2 separate regions of the Homo sapiens genome follow, and region 2 is linked to region 1. The links come from fine-mapping of genetic effects on gene expression. Tissue or cell type: whole blood. Region 1 holds a variant in brackets; the other region holds the start of a gene. All regions are shown on one strand. Distances are between the middles of the regions.

Region 1 (8,530 bases):
TCCTCCAGTTTCTGGTTTAACTGGTTTATGTGGAAATGAATGGAAACACATGGTTAAGTTCCCCAGCCTCCAGCTTCTCTCTTCCTCTTACCTATATTTGTACTTGCCCACTTTTCCTCTTGTGGGCCTGTTCCTAGAATCCATTATGTTCTGTGGGTGACATCAGCCTGCTACTGCGGGAAGAAATAGAATTTTATGGTGCCCAAGATAAAATCGACTATGATGATGCAGAATGAAGACCTGGAGAGGAGTCAGAGATTGCAGGGGATAAAAAGAGAGAAATCAGAGATGCTCCCACAAACAGAGAAAACCTTCAGAAGCAGCAGGAAGGACAGAGTAAATGGAGAACAAAAACTCAAGTCAAAATAGTCAATGGAAATAAACAGTTTTGAATTCCAGTTATAATTTGGAAAAGAAGCAAACGTTTATTTTAAATTAAGAAAAAAGTCGCTTATAATTTCCTGAAGTTTAGAAAAGTGAAAAATAGTTAAACCTCCTGTTGTTAGCTAAGAAGTGTCTATTATTATAAGTTTGTTGCTGGAGAGAACATAAAAATCTCTATCTATTGCTATTTTTTTTTTTTTTGCATAAGGGATGGATAAAAGAGTGTTTATTTTATTTAGCCTTTGGCCTGTAAAGTAAGATTTATGAAACAAAGGACAATCGGAAATGATAAGAATTTTTTCCTAATTTCTAATTATTTAGCTAAACCTTGATTGATTTCTCTCAGGCTAGTGCCCATATTACAGCAGCAGTCAGCCTTCATTTATCTTACCTGGGACCACTGCTAAATCCGATGTCACTTTTCAGTTTTTATATTATGTGACCATTTAGCCACATTTCACCTACTTGATCATTCCCTCCATCTTGAGACCTCCCTCGACCCGGCTTCCAACATACTTTGCCCTCCTGGTTTTTCTTTCTCTGTTGGCTCACTTTCTCAGTCTCCTCTGCTGGTTGCTCCATTTTTCCACAATCTCTCAAAACTGGTGCTCCTCAGATTAAGTCCTTGGACTTCTCTCCTTAGATTGACATCTGGAGTCATGGCTTCAAACACCACCTATCACTCCCTTTCTCCTTGAACTCTAGACGTGTCCATCCAACTGCTACGTGACATCTCCACTGGGATTTCTAAGAACTTTGCCAAACTTAACATGTCTAAAACCAAATTCTGGGCTGGGGGTGGTGGCTCACGCCTGTAATCCCAGCACTTTAGGAGGCTGAGGTGGGCAGACTACTTGAGCCCAGGAGTTCGAGACCAGTCTGGCCAATAGAGAAAAGCTGTCTCTACAAAAAATACAACACTTAGCTGGACGTGATGGTGCATGCCTGTAGTCCCAGTTACTGGGGAGGCTGAGGCGGGAGGATTGCTTGAGCCTGAGAAGTTGATTCTGCAGTAAGCTATGATTACACCACTACATTCCAGCCTGGGTGACAGAGTGAGACCCTGCCTCAAAAAAAAAAAACAAAAACCAAAACCAAAACCAAAAAAAAAAAGCAAAGAGCAAAACACAAAAAACATATTCCAAATCTCCCCTTTAAACCTCCTCTTCTTACAATGAGTCCTATCTTGATTTATGGCAGATCCTTCCTTCCAGTTCTCAAGCCAAACACCATGGGGTCATTCTTGACTCCTCTCTTCCATGGGCTCATCTAAACATCAGAGTATCCTGTTGGCTATCTGGAATTTAACCACTTCCTATCACTGCCATTGCTACCCACCTGCTCTTAGTTATCACCAGAGTTCCCTGGAGTGTTGGAGCCGCCGCAGAGCTGGTTTCCCTGCTCCTGCCTTTCCTGCCCATGCTCTGTCCTGCCAGTCAGCTCTGTCCTTTAAAAATGGAAATCAGGTTACCTCATGACTCTTTTCTTTCTTTTTCTTTTCTTTTTTTTTTTACAGAATCTTGCTCTGTCATCCAGCCTGGAGAGCAGTGGCATGATCTCTACTCACTGCAACTTCCGCCTCCCAGATTCAAGTGATTCTCCTGTCTCAGCCTCTTAAGTAGCTGGGATTATAGGTGCCAGCCACCATGCCCAGCTACTTTTTGTATTTTTAGTAGCGAAGGGGTTTCGCCATGTTGGCCAGGCTGGTCTTGAACTCCTGACCTCAGGTGATCTGCCCGCTTCAGCCTCCCGAAGTGCTGGGATTACAGGTGTGAGCCACCGCGCCCAGCCATGACTCTTTTCAAAAACTCCCCATCTTCTCCACTTCCATTCAGTAACAGTCAGATCTGCATGGCCCCCTCCTGACCTTCTGATGTCATGTTCTTTGCTACCCCTTGAGTGCATTGAACATGCCTCTGACCCAGAACTTTTCTGTTTGCTATTTCCTCAAGTGCATATCTTGTTCCTTCATTTTCTTCAGGTGATTATTAAAATTTCACTTCCATGAGTCCTTCCCTGGCCCCCATATTTAACACTGCATCTTCCTCCATCTTCTTTCCCTCCTCCCCATGTACATTTTACTCCCTTACTAAATTTTTTTTCCTATCTCACTTTCTTTTCTTTTTGAGACAGAGTATTACTCTGTCACTTAGGCTGGAGCGCAGTGGCGCAATCTTGGCTCACTGCAACCTCCACCTCCTGGGTTCAAGCAATTCTCCTGCCTCGGCCTCCCGAGTAGCTGGGATTAGAGGCGCGTGCCACCATGCCTGGCTAATTTTTGTATTTTTAGTAGAGACAGGGTTTCATCACGTTGGTCGGGCTGGTCTCCAACTCCTGACCTTGGCTTCCCAAAGTGCTGGTATTACTTTCTAACCTCCTGTGTATGCTACCTATTTATTTGTCTGTCTCTCTACACTAGAATATAAGCTCTATGAGGGTAGACTTCTTTGTTTTGTCCAATGCTCTATTTCCAATATTTATAACCGTACTGGCCGGTAGGTACTGTCAATTATAGTTTTTGAATAAATTGAGAGTAACAAATTCTAACTGGTGAAAATAAATTAAATGGGCCGGGCGTGATGGCTCACGCCTGTAATCCCAGCACTTTGGGAGGCCGAGGCGGGCAGATCACTTGAGGTCAGGAGTTCAAGACCAGCCTGGGCAACATGGTGAAACCCCGTCTCTATTAAAAATACAAAAATTAGCTGGGTGTGGTGGTGCATGCCTGTAATCCCAGCTACTCGGGAGGCTGAGGCACAAGAATCGCTTGAACCCTGGAGGCGAAGGTTGCAGTGAGCCGGCATTGAGCCACTGCACTCCAGCCTGGGCGACAGAGCGAGACTCTGTCTCAAAATAAATAAATAAAATAAAAATTAAAAAGAAAATAAATGATCTCACAGGATATCATTTCTTGATTGGAGGAGGAGAGAAAAATGTGTATGTGTGAGGGTACAGAGAGAGTTCCTTTGCATTAGTGAGGGTTCACATCAGAACTGTCTAACCTCCCTACTCAGTGGGTCCTGTTACCTCTCTCCTGAATCCAATAATACTCTGGTGCACACCTTTTACTGGTACTGAGGCTATTTTAACGTTCCATTAAAAAAAAAAAGAAAACATTTAAAATACAAAAACAAGGCTGTACTACTTTAACTCTGACCTTAGAAGACTCTCAGTTTTATAACTGTTTAGAGAAAATGTGGAAATGTTTGCTGGCCCCAATCTTTTTATTACTCATCTCTATAAAGAGGCTTTTAAGGACATATTAAAAAGTTTCCATCTCTCTTGTCTCTTGCCTTTCTTCTCATCTTCCTTTCTTGTACCCCAAATGGCTGAAAGCAAGACCCTGAGAGTCTGGAAGAAATATATTCTGGTCAGAGCAGACTGAGCTGGAGCTGGCCTAGAACCTTGGATCCTGACCTCAGAATTGCTGCTCAAATTACTGCTCTCTGAAAGAGTGAGCTCATGCATGTTTATTATTACTGTGAACAAATTTAGCTGTTGTTTCACCCAAACATTGAAGTTCTCGCTTGGACCCCTTTGCTTGTTTGTGCTTTTGCAAATGTGTTTTCTCATGTGCTACTAGAACCAAGATGAAAGCTTCAGTTCTCAGAACAGGTGCCAC[G/A]ACCGAGGAGACAAAACAAGAGCTATAGAGGGGTGTGGTGTGTGAAACTGAGAAAGCAGGTAGTTTTTCAGAAAAACTGAGAGCCAGGAATGACTTCATCCATTTCCTGTAATAAGGCAATGGTCTGACCTTGAGGAACCTATTAGAGTGTGCTTCTAAACAGAGGCCATTTCGAGGCTGAATGTACGGGAGTATTTACCTTTGACTGTTTTCTGAAGCAAGGTATTTTATAAACTGTAAAGTGGCTTATACAATTTTAGGAATGGAAAGTTTTGCAAAGTCTCCAAAATCCCTGGGAGTTTTGAATGTGCAGGCCATATGAATTCTTTGTAGTTTCATGGTCTTGCTGTTCAGCATTCTTTAGAGTCACCTGCATGGTAGAAGTTTAGTAGGAATTTGGGTAGTTATGGGCTGGTTTCTTTGTTTTCCCAAATAGAGGTAGCAAAATGGATGCTAAGAAGCAAATTACTTTTACTATTTTAGATGCCTCTGGGGACATCCTGTCATAATGCAACTTAAAATATACTCGTCTCCTCAGTTCCTTTTTATGTATTTATTTAATAGTCTTCAACCAATTTGTTCTTCATTAGCTGTTCTACAATACTTCAAGAGAAGTCATGATAATGATGCATTTAGGATCAGAAAAATATAGCATGTGTGAGTTCCTGGGGACTTTAGAGAATATCTAGCCCAGTCTTTCATTTTATAGAAGAGGAAGGCCAGGGATGGTGGCTCATGCCTGTAATCCCAGCACTTTGGGAGGCCAAAGTGGGCGGATCACCTGAGGTCAGGAGTTCGAGACCAGCCTGGCCAACATGGTGAAACCGCATCTCTACTAAAACTACAAAAATTAGGCAGGCCTGGTGGTGGGTGCCTGTAATCCCAGCTACTCAGGAGGCTGAGGCAGGAGAATTGCTTGAACCAGGCAGAGGTTGCAGTGAGCCAATATCATGCCACTGCACTCCAGCCTGGGCAACAGAGTGAGACTCTGTCTCAAATTAAAAAAAAAAAAAAAAGAAGAAGGAGAGGAAGCTGGGGGTGAGGACAGGCAGTGACTCACCCAGGGTCTCACACTGATTTGCTGGCAGAGTTAAGCATGAAAAGGTGCCTCTCCTAGTCTCTTTCCAGTGTTCTTGTCATCACAATGAGTTAAAATAAAAATTACTAGCAACTTGGGAGTAATAACAATAAACTTCTCAAAATCTACTACATGGTCTAGAAAACCAAACATAAGGCCGGACGCAGTGGCTCACGCCTGTAATCCCAGCACTTTGGGAGGCCAAGGCAGGCGGATCAGGAGGTCAAGAGATCAAGACAATCCTGGCCAACATGGTGACACTCTGTCTCTACTAAAACCACAGAAATTAGCTGGGTGTGGTGGTGCGTGCCTGTAGTCCCAGCTACTCAAGAGGCTGAGGCAGGAGAATTGCTTGAACACGGGAGGCAGAGGTTGCAGTGAGCCGAGATCATGCCACTGCACTCCAGCATGGCGACTGGACTCTGTCTCAAAAAAAAAAAAAAAAAAAAAGAAAACCAAACATAAAACCAGAATATTCCTGTGAGTTCCATTACATAGGACAATATGGTCCTGCTGATCTATTAAAATTATGTTTATAAATTAGAGGCTCTTCATTGGGAGATATACTTAATGCTAGATGACGAGTTAGTGGGTGCAGCGCACCAGCATGGCACATGTATACATATGTAACTAACCTGCACATTGTGCACATGTACCCTAAAACTTAAAGTATAATAATAATAATAATAAAAAAAGAATAACAGGAAAAATAATTAGAGGCTCTTTACTGTATTTAAGGTGTTCAAATAATTGAAGCTAGTTTAGTATCTCCTTAGCCTTCCCCAGCATGCCCTGCAGCTTTGACGCTGCAGAACACCAGTTGGTGGCTGATATTTAGATGATGGAAATCTTGGACACATTTTCATTTTTGATAAAATGACATGGCACTATGGTTACATTTTACAAATATTTTTGCGGATGTATATCAGGTGGCATACCCAAGAAGGAACAGACCTTCCTCAGGGGTCCTTCTTAGGAAAGTACAGCTTTGCTTCTCTGATCATCAGAATTGGATCCTTCAGGTATTAGGTTGGTGCAAAAGTAACTGCGGTTTTTGCCATTCAAAGTAATGGCACCTGAAAGGGTTGGTAAAATTCAGAATATTATAAAATCAGTAAAAGCTTAATCAAATTTGCCTAAATCTATCCTACAGATTAGTCTATGCATGGTTTATTAAACAACCTAACTGAAACACACATGCATATGTGTGAGTAAGCTGACATCAGGGATCACCTTATCATGGAAAATCTAGGGAAGGTTGGCTCAATCTTCAATTTGTGAAGACCAATTCCCCTACCACGTCCATATATACATATTCCCAGGAGACTTGTTTCTTCAGGGCTCTCTTTGGTTCTCAGCTCTTCCTTTCTGAATTAGTGGGTCACTTTAACCTCCCTTGGGTCACAGTCGTGTTCCACACTGGGTGGGTCCAGAGGTAGAACTCATTGCCTTTCTTTGAATCCCACACAAGACCACCCAACAAGGCATTGTAGTTGGTGGAAAACTCCATTGAAGAAAGGGTCTATATTGCAACAAACAAGCATCTAGAAATAGAATATTAAATATCCCTCCTCTTAAAAATCCATTGTCCAATTCAGACTTCAGCATAATGTAATCTTCTGTCTTCTTTTCTCTGTGTTTCCATCTTGAGAGCCATCCTATTATCTGTGTCCTTTCTTTGTTGTCTTAGGAAGAATATTTTGGCTTATCCTTTGTTTTGTTCTCTCCTTCCCGGACCTATTATGGTAAATGTGGAATTTGCAGATAGGCTTATTTGCGCTCCCCAGCCTGCTCCCTTAATGCTCTCTGGTAAGACACTTCTTTGAGTCCTCCGAGGCGAGTTGCTGCCCCCCAGCACCTGCTCTTCCCCATCGCAACCCATGACAGTAAACGCACTGCACATACTTATCCCACAGACTGCTGTGAGAACTAGATGGAGGCTATGTGTGAAGCTGCAAGCTCTTGGTAAAGTGCTACAGAAATTGGTAGACACTGTTACTATGATAAGATGTTCAGAAAATAATGGATCGATTAAAGTTTCACTTATCTATTAAAAGATAAAAAACTCTATGATTGAGACCTTTTTGGAATATTGGAAAATATTTTTGTGTGCTTATTAGCATACTGATATGTTTCAGTACACATTTCATGGATTTATGGCTAAGGATGTTACTTTCAAGAAGGTAACTATACATCGCTCTCTACTAGCATGCTGTTCTGTTCCTGAGAAATAGTGGCTGGGCGAAGGGTATGCAAACATTTCTTAATATCTCATCCAATACCATTTTCCCACTACTAATTATTCAACACATGGAAATGTAGGTCAAAGCATTAAAAAAAAAAACTAGAACAGCAATACCTTGGTGGTTGGCAGGTGTTTATTTAAAATATTTACGTTTTAGCCTTATTTTTTAATACTTCTTTTTCATATATATTAGATATTTAACTAAAGAAAATAATAATCATTCTCATGGAATACTTTAAAATAGTAGAAACAATCATGAATAGAAATGAAGATTTAGGCCTATACTACCCTAGGCTCTGTCATTCTTATTCCTAACCATTTGCATAGGAAATTTAGATTCACCCACTTCTCTTTCTTAGAATAAGATTCACAGGTTTTTGGGCATATTCCCATTGCATGCCTGACTGGGGAGGTGTTCAAATCCCTGCTTTTCTACTCCTCAGCCCTGTGACCCTGAGCAATTTCTGTGGCTTGGTTTCCTCATCTGTAAAATAGGATATTAATAGAACATATCCCTTTAACGTTGCAGTGATCACATTAATTAGTTGATGCAAAACAGTCCATCTAGAACAGTAAGCCCTCAATAAATGCTAGCTATCATTATCATTTCATAGCCAGCCCCACCATGGATGGGTCATGTGACCTGAAGCAAATTTAAATTCTCTGGATTTCAGTTATCTCTCATTGAAGGAATTAGGCTCCATCAGTGGTTCTCAAACTCAAGTGAGTATCAGAATCACAGGGAGGGTGTGTTATGACACTGAAGGCCGGGCCCCACCCTCAGAATTTCTTATTCAGTAGATCCAGGAGGGAGTGCAATAATTTGTATTTCTAAAAAGCTCCCAAGTGAAGTTGATGGCTGATCTGGAGACACACCTTGAAATTCTTCTGCTTACTCTAAACAAAACGTGCTTTTTTATCTTGAGTGCACATCAGAACCCTCTGGGGAGGTTAAAAGTCCCAGTGAAATCACAACCTCTGCAGATGGTAACCAGATCTTAGTGGCTTTTAAAGTTCTCCAGGTGCTTCCATTGAGCAGCTAAGGTTGACAACACTTCTAACACCGCTTTCAGGTGAAAAAGAACTATCATTCTAACTTAAATGAAGGAGAAAATGAATTCATCATTCTGACACCGTTATCTATTCTTTCATGCATGGGCTTATCCTATGAGAAATAAACATTTACTAAGGTGTATGCATG
Region 2 (8,000 bases), 49 kb after region 1:
AACATGGCCAGGGACAGTGCTGGGTTCTCATAATTCCCAAGTAATTCTAGCCAGACCTTGTCCTCAAGGAGCTTATGAGCAGCATGAGGAGATAAAAAACAGATAAATAACTCTAATTCAGGAAGAATTTGATAAATGCATGATAACTACTACTAGAATTCAGAGGAGAGGAAATTTTCTTTGAATAGAGACTAAAGGAAGGAATAATGAATGTGGTAGCATTTGGGCTGGACCTATTACAAGAGGCATGCTTTCCCCTGACAAGCCAAGAAAGTGGGGATTTAAGGTAGAAGAAAAGAAAAGCCTTGAGTTCTTGGAGTATTAAAATTTTGCTTGGCTGAAGCATAGGTTACAGTCGGAGGAGATGGACTAGGAAGGATCGTTATGGGCAGAGAGGAAGCCCTGAACTCATGGGGGAAGCTATGATTTGGGTTAAAGACAGAGCTGGGTCATGTCAAGATGGATCCTGAAGCAGTAAAAAAAAATCCAAGAAAGTAAACAGGTTGCAGGGTTTAGGATGAAGTCCGGGAGGAAAGGGCAGAGTGGTCCTTAGGAGGCCGTTAGGACAGGTAAGGTAATGGGTCTCAAAGGGAGTGGCCGAAATGCAATGGAAAAAGAGAGATTGTAAAGCTAGAAGGCTTAGGAATTGCCTCTTGATTAGGTGTGGAAGGCAAGGGAAAATCAGCCCTCGAAGAAGACAGTGAGATTTTAATCTGGGTGGCTGGAGAGACAGTGATGCTGGGCACAGACACGGGGAAGTTGAGAGGAACACCATGTTTGAGAATGGTGACTCATATTTGAACAAGCCTGCAATGCCCAGCAGACCGCTGGAAAAGTGGGGCTGGAGACACATTCAACGGAGGAGCCAGATCAATCTTTACCCTTCTTCACCTGAGAGAGCCAGTAAGTCACGGCTGGAACGTGTGTGTCCAGCAGGAGAGGGTAGGGAGGGAAGCCAAGAGAGCTGGGAGCCCGAGTGAAGTTTTTGCCAAAGGCAGAAGAGGAAAGTCGGCGTAGCACAGTATACTTTCCCACCCATGCTCACCAAGCCCAGGGACAAGGCTCACCAAGATGAGTTTGGAAGAGAATGCTGGAGAGAAAGTGGTTAAGAAAACTGCCTTTACTGAACTTCTTGGGCTAACTTTGATTGTAAGTCTCTGAACAATCAAAGCCTGTGAGGAGACAGCTAACCTTCTTATTCTTCCTATGTCAATAGTGAACAATTGCAGATCCCCTTTCCTTTCCTTCTCCTTTCCCCTGTTCCTCTCTCCTCCCTCCCTGAATACTCTTGCTTTTTTCTGGGACTGGTCTAGAGCATGGGTGGCCATTGTTGACCTACAGGAGGCACCACTGTCACCAACAAAGGGTAACAGTCTTTCTTTTCAATATTTATTTATATCCAGTATTTATTTTCAATACTGACTATGGAGAGAGCTCTCCTGTGCTCAAACACTGCAATACTGGGGGTCTTTCAAAGCACAAAAACATATATTTGCATGATGGCATCATTAACATTTTTATGGCTTTCTATTTCTTTTTTGTACTGGTCTCAAGAGCCACTCATAAATCTCTCAGTAACTGCATAGTGTCCCAGGGCCAGAGACCGGCCACTCCTGGCATTGTGATTAGAGTCATTTAATATCCAAGGTGGTGACTAATGTCTGGCAACAAAGCCTCCATTGGGTGTCATGTGTCCTGGGACCCTGAGCGTGGGCACTCTAGGAGCACCTCAGTATTGCGTGTTAGTACTATGGCCGAGAGAATAGTTGAGAAAGTGGTCAAGAGGTGGATCCATGTGAACGCCACTGGGAAATGAGAGACCTCGTTCCCAATCACGGTCAGTGCAACTCGAAAGCCTAAAATCAGTTTAAAACAAAGGTATCTACCTTTATCTTATGTTCATATCCTAGGCTTTTAATAATACGTATTTTTCACATGTTTACAGAAAGCAGTCAACTGAGCTATTCATGGAAAGGTTTGTGGGTTTGGTTAACGAAGTGGAGGAGTATTACATTTCAGCTGGAAACACATCCCTAGAATGCCAAAACATTTATTCCAAAGTCTGGTTTCCTGGTGCAATCGGAGGCATGGCAATGCCTCTGTTCAGAGACTGGGGGCTAGGGCCAGTAAGGCATTTGATCCACATGTATCCCAGAAGGCTTTTATTGTTAAATTATATTCTTTCGGAAAAACCACCCATGTCCTATTTTGTAAACTTGATATCCATACACTTTTGACTGGCATTCTATTTTAGCCGTAAGACTATGATTCACAGCAAGCCTGTTTTTCCTCTTGCTTGGGGTGGCAGCAGAAAGCATAGGGTACTTTCCAGCCTCCAAGGGTAGGGGCAAAGGGGCTGGGGTTTCTCCTCCCCAGTACAGCTTTCTCTGGCTGTGCCACACTGCTCCCTGTGAGCAGACAGCAAGTCTCCCCTCACTCCCCACTGCCATTCATCCAGCGCTGTGCAGTAGCCCAGCTGCGTGTCTGCCGGGAGGGGCTGCCAAGTGCCCTGCCTACTGGCTGCTTCCCGAATCCCTGCCATTCCACGCACAAACACATCCACACACTCTCTCTGCCTAGTTCACACACTGAGCCACTCGCACATGCGAGCACATTCCTTCCTTCCTTCTCACTCTCTCGGCCCTTGACTTCTACAAGCCCATGGAACATTTCTGGAAAGACGTTCTTGATCCAGCAGGGTAGGCTTGTTTTGATTTCTCTCTCTGTAGCTTTAGCATTTTGAGAAAGCAACTTACCTTTCTGGCTAGTGTCTGTATCCTAGCAGGGAGATGAGGATTGCTGTTCTCCATGGGGGTATGTGTGTGTCTCCTTTTTCTTTCAGGACTTGTAGGATTCTTTGTGCCATTTGCATATAATTTGGCAGGTTCACATTTTTTAAGAGCCCTATGAAGTGCTTTTTGCATGTGTTTTAAAAAGGCATTTGAAAATTGAAAGTGTGATTTATGGAAATTAAATCATCTGTAAAAAATTGCTTTGGAAAGTAATGATTGCTGGCCATAAAGGGAAATATCTGCGATGCACCTAATGTGTTTTTAACCCTTTATTTGCTGACAATCTATAGTCATTAATGCTAAACTCGATTTTGGCTTCAGCTACATTTGCATATTGTCCAACAATGGTCTATTTTTGTAAGAATTAGATAAAATGTATACTTGATATAAAATAGTCAAAAATGTAACTCTTAGTAACAGTAAGCTTGGCATTTAGATAGACCATGAACACTTCGTCAGATACTCTGTTGGGTGTTTGGGATAGCAATTAAAACAAAGTATTGATAGTTGTATCAGAGTCTATTAGGCTGCAGCAAAGGAAGTTTATTCAAAAGTATAAACTATCCAAGATTATAGACGCATGATATACTTCACCTATTTTTTGTCTCCTTAATATGTATATATATATATATATATATATATATACACATATATGTGTGTGTGTATGTGCGTGTGCATGTTTAACTTTTAATTCAGTTAAAAACTTTTTTCTATTTGTTTTTCATCTGGATATTTGATTCTGCATATCCTAGCCCAAGTGAACCGAGAAGATCGAGTTGTAGGACTAAAGGATAGACATGCAGAAATGCATTTTAAAAATCTGTTAGCTGGACCAGACCGACAATGTAACATAATTGCCAAAGCTTTGGTTCGTGACCTGAGGTTATGTTTGGTATGAAAAGGTCACATTTTATATTCAGTTTTCTGAAGTTTTGGTTGCATAACCAACCTGTGGAAGGCATGAACACCCATGTGCGCCCTAACCAAAGGTTTTTCTGAATCATCCTTCACATGAGAATTCCTAATGGGACCAAGTACAGTACTGTGGTCCAACATAAACACACAAGTCAGGCTGAGAGAATCTCAGAAGGTTGTGGAAGGGTCTATCTACTTTGGGAGCATTTTGCAGAGGAAGAAACTGAGGTCCTGGCAGGTTGCATTCTCCTGATGGCAAAATGCAGCTCTTCCTATATGTATACCCTGAATCTCCGCCCCCTTCCCCTCAGATGCCCCCTGTCAGTTCCCCCAGCTGCTAAATATAGCTGTCTGTGGCTGGCTGCGTATGCAACCGCACACCCCATTCTATCTGCCCTATCTCGGTTACAGTGTAGTCCTCCCCAGGGTCATCCTATGTACACACTACGTATTTCTAGCCAACGAGGAGGGGGAATCAAACAGAAAGAGAGACAAACAGAGATATATCGGAGTCTGGCACGGGGCACATAAGGCAGCACATTAGAGAAAGCCGGCCCCTGGATCCGTCTTTCGCGTTTATTTTAAGCCCAGTCTTCCCTGGGCCACCTTTAGCAGATCCTCGTGCGCCCCCGCCCCCTGGCCGTGAAACTCAGCCTCTATCCAGCAGCGACGACAAGTAAAGTAAAGTTCAGGGAAGCTGCTCTTTGGGATCGCTCCAAATCGAGTTGTGCCTGGAGTGATGTTTAAGCCAATGTCAGGGCAAGGCAACAGTCCCTGGCCGTCCTCCAGCACCTTTGTAATGCATATGAGCTCGGGAGACCAGTACTTAAAGTTGGAGGCCCGGGAGCCCAGGAGCTGGCGGAGGGCGTTCGTCCTGGGACTGCACTTGCTCCCGTCGGGTCGCCCGGCTTCACCGGACCCGCAGGCTCCCGGGGCAGGGCCGGGGCCAGAGCTCGCGTGTCGGCGGGACATGCGCTGCGTCGCCTCTAACCTCGGGCTGTGCTCTTTTTCCAGGTGGCCCGCCGGTTTCTGAGCCTTCTGCCCTGCGGGGACACGGTCTGCACCCTGCCCGCGGCCACGGACCATGACCATGACCCTCCACACCAAAGCATCTGGGATGGCCCTACTGCATCAGATCCAAGGGAACGAGCTGGAGCCCCTGAACCGTCCGCAGCTCAAGATCCCCCTGGAGCGGCCCCTGGGCGAGGTGTACCTGGACAGCAGCAAGCCCGCCGTGTACAACTACCCCGAGGGCGCCGCCTACGAGTTCAACGCCGCGGCCGCCGCCAACGCGCAGGTCTACGGTCAGACCGGCCTCCCCTACGGCCCCGGGTCTGAGGCTGCGGCGTTCGGCTCCAACGGCCTGGGGGGTTTCCCCCCACTCAACAGCGTGTCTCCGAGCCCGCTGATGCTACTGCACCCGCCGCCGCAGCTGTCGCCTTTCCTGCAGCCCCACGGCCAGCAGGTGCCCTACTACCTGGAGAACGAGCCCAGCGGCTACACGGTGCGCGAGGCCGGCCCGCCGGCATTCTACAGGTACCCGCGCCCGCGCCGCCCGTCGGGGTGGCCGCCGCGCCCGGCAGGAGGGAGGGAGGGAGGGAGGGAGAAGGGAGAGCCTAGGGAGCTGCGGGAGCCGCGGGACGCGCGACCCGAGGGTGCGCGCAGGGAGCCCGGGGCGCGCGGCCCAGCCCGGGGGTTCTGCGTGCAGCCCGCGCTGCGTTCAGAGTCAAGTTCTCTCGCCGGGCAGCTGAAAAAAACGTACTCTCCACCCACTTACCGTCCGTGCGAGAGGCAGACCCGAAAGCCCGGGCTTCCTAACAAAACACACGTTGGAAAACCAGACAAAGCAGCAGTTATTTGTGGGGGAAAACACCTCCAGGCAAATAAACACGGGGCGCTTTGAGTCACTTGGGAAGGTCTCGCTCTTGGCATTTAAAGTTGGGGGTGTTTGGAGTTAGCAGAGCTCAGCAGAGTTTTATTTATCCTTTTAATGTTTTTGTTTAATGTGCTCCCCAAATTTCCTTTCATCTAGACTATTTGATTGGAAATATGTCAGCTATGATGATGACTTTCTGGGAAGCGATTCCTGTCACCCGCTTTCCCCTCCTCCCCACCCCACGTCCTGGGGCTTTAGAGAGCGATTGGGAGTTGAATGGGTCTGATTTCGGAGTTAGCTGGCTGAGTCCGCGCTGGAGCGGATTGCTGGCATGTGACTTCTGACAGCCGGAAATTTGTAGGTGTCCCGCGAGTTTAAAACAAGCCATATGGAAGCACAAGTGCTTAAAAATAATCTCCTGCCAGCCCAGTGACAAGCCTGTCCCACCCGGGGAGAATGCCCCGGAGTGGCGTGCGGGTCAGCCAGGGTCTGCGCCTCGCAGCCACTGTGGAAGGAGCGCGGCCGGTCCAGGACACAGGAGACCACTTTGTGACTTCAATGGCGAAGGTTGTGTGTCCTCATTTTAATTTTTTTCCCTACAAGAATTGTTCTTTCTCCCTCTCCTCTCCCTCCCATTTTCTCTTGCCCAGTTTCTCCTTTTGTTTTTTGTTTTTTGTTTTCCTGATGGGCCTGCAGAGGGATTAGGTGGGCGCTTCTGGTGAACACCTTCCTAGGTGGCCACAGGACAGGTGTACCCCGGACTGGGTTTGGAAGCTTCAGGGCGCCACATGGCTGGGTCCTGAATTAGGCATTTCCCAACTGTACACTGGTATCCGGACTGGTGTCCCTATATCTTTCTGCCTTGTAAGCCGTGGACCAGTTTTTGTTCAGTATTCTGTTTCCAGGGATATTTATAGCAGAAGGAAGGGGACTAAAGTGCAGTTTGGCCCCAGAGGATACTGAAGGGCAGATTCTGGGGGTATTCAGTGTGCATCTTCAGCCGCCTTGGAGAAATTTAGAGCATCCCACAGCCACGCAGATCCAAGCTGTCTTTACTCAAAAGACAAACAATGAACAAAACTTTTAAAGGTTGGCATATTTCAAATTAATTTTACTTGTTTTAATTTAGGGTTAAAACAGAGAAAAAGGATTTCTTCTGCCCACCTTTTTTTTTTTAAATGGAAGAACAAAGTACAGCGATTAAGTCTAATTCCACACAACATTTAAAACTGCTTGATGTGAAGGAAGGCACTGGTATGATGTGAATTCCATAACCTTATGATGGACTCCAGAAACCATTTTCTTCCCTATTTAATTTTCAGTTCTTTTATTGCAAATTAATGCTGCTGAATTTCAATGGGCACTAATGAGACTGCTCCTTGGTAGATTATTTACTGCCTTGCTAATAATTACAAAGTGAACCTGGTCAAATACAGAGGGGATCGCATCTTATTCAAAATTGTTCATCATCCCAGTGATAAGTGGTATCAGTGTAATATGCCCTATCTTACACTTTCTGCATTACATGATATTCAAACACTCTTAGAATAATAAAAAAAGAGACAAGGAACTTAAAAATTAAAAAAAAAACTTGCACAAATGGGACTCTGTGTGGAAATTCAGTTTTAGAATGATTTTTCCTGTGTTTTATTTCCCGGATTATCTTTCCTCTTTTGTTAGAATTCTGCCTGTTATTATCCAGCAAGGAAAAGAAGCATCTATGCAAGTTCTTCATATGGACAGATATTATTTAGTATTTTTCCCCTCTCAGTTTTTCTGCTTAAATGACTCTGGGTATAAAGGAAAGGATTGATTGGGCTCTTTTAGGAAACTTTAAGTTTCTTAAGTAGTTCTCAAAAGTTTTGGGGCTGAAAGCAGTGTTTTCAAACTGCTTGTCATGACCCAGAGGGTCATGAACTCAGTTTAGTGAGTCTAGAATATTTTTTAAAAGGACTAAAATGGAAAGGAATATAATAGAAAATATCAGAGTGCATGGTATTTCGTAAGGATAAGTTTTGTTTCCTGAAAATCTGTTTTAATTATATGTGCTTCTGTGTGCTGATTGTGATGTAAAATGTATTTCTTACTGTGGATTGAATTCAAAGAAAAAATTAGAAAGCTAATGGCCTAAAATATTATATGTTCAGTAGAAAACAAAAAATTCAGGCAAGTGGCTGGTTGTTTTTACCTATACAAATCAAAAGGCTATTTTGATTGTCTTCATTTTCCCCTTATAAATTAGGTTGGTGTCTTTAGTCATTTAGGCTAAGTTTTACTATCTGATTCTTAACTTTTCTATTGTAGAATGGTGCTGTCATGTGGACTGTCCTCCCGAGTGTCCCACTGGATGTTCAGAGAATTTATGTGAAGGTCACGTCATTTAGCATTGAGATGCTGTGGTTACCTTCTTCCATTTC

The links. PIP is the estimated chance that this variant, and not a neighbour inherited with it, causes the effect.
Region 2: ESR1 starts here. The variant in region 1 is fine-mapped to the expression of ESR1 in whole blood (TOPMed, PIP above 0.99).

The regions. Positions count from the first base shown.
Region 1 is chr6:151,753,756-151,762,285 of GRCh38, forward strand. It overlaps LOC107986529 (a long non-coding RNA gene), which reads right to left. Exons shown (of 2, transcript XR_007059818.1): 2 at 1-173. It also overlaps a transcript of ESR1 not described here. Among named protein-coding and RNA genes, the nearest start is that of ESR1, 50 kb to the right of the region's middle. The variant G/A (reference allele first, on the strand shown) is at 4,007.
Region 2 is chr6:151,803,122-151,811,121 of GRCh38, forward strand. ESR1 (estrogen receptor 1) reads left to right here and starts at 4,561. Exons shown (of 8, transcript NM_000125.4): 1 at 4,561-5,243. The coding sequence starts at 4,792.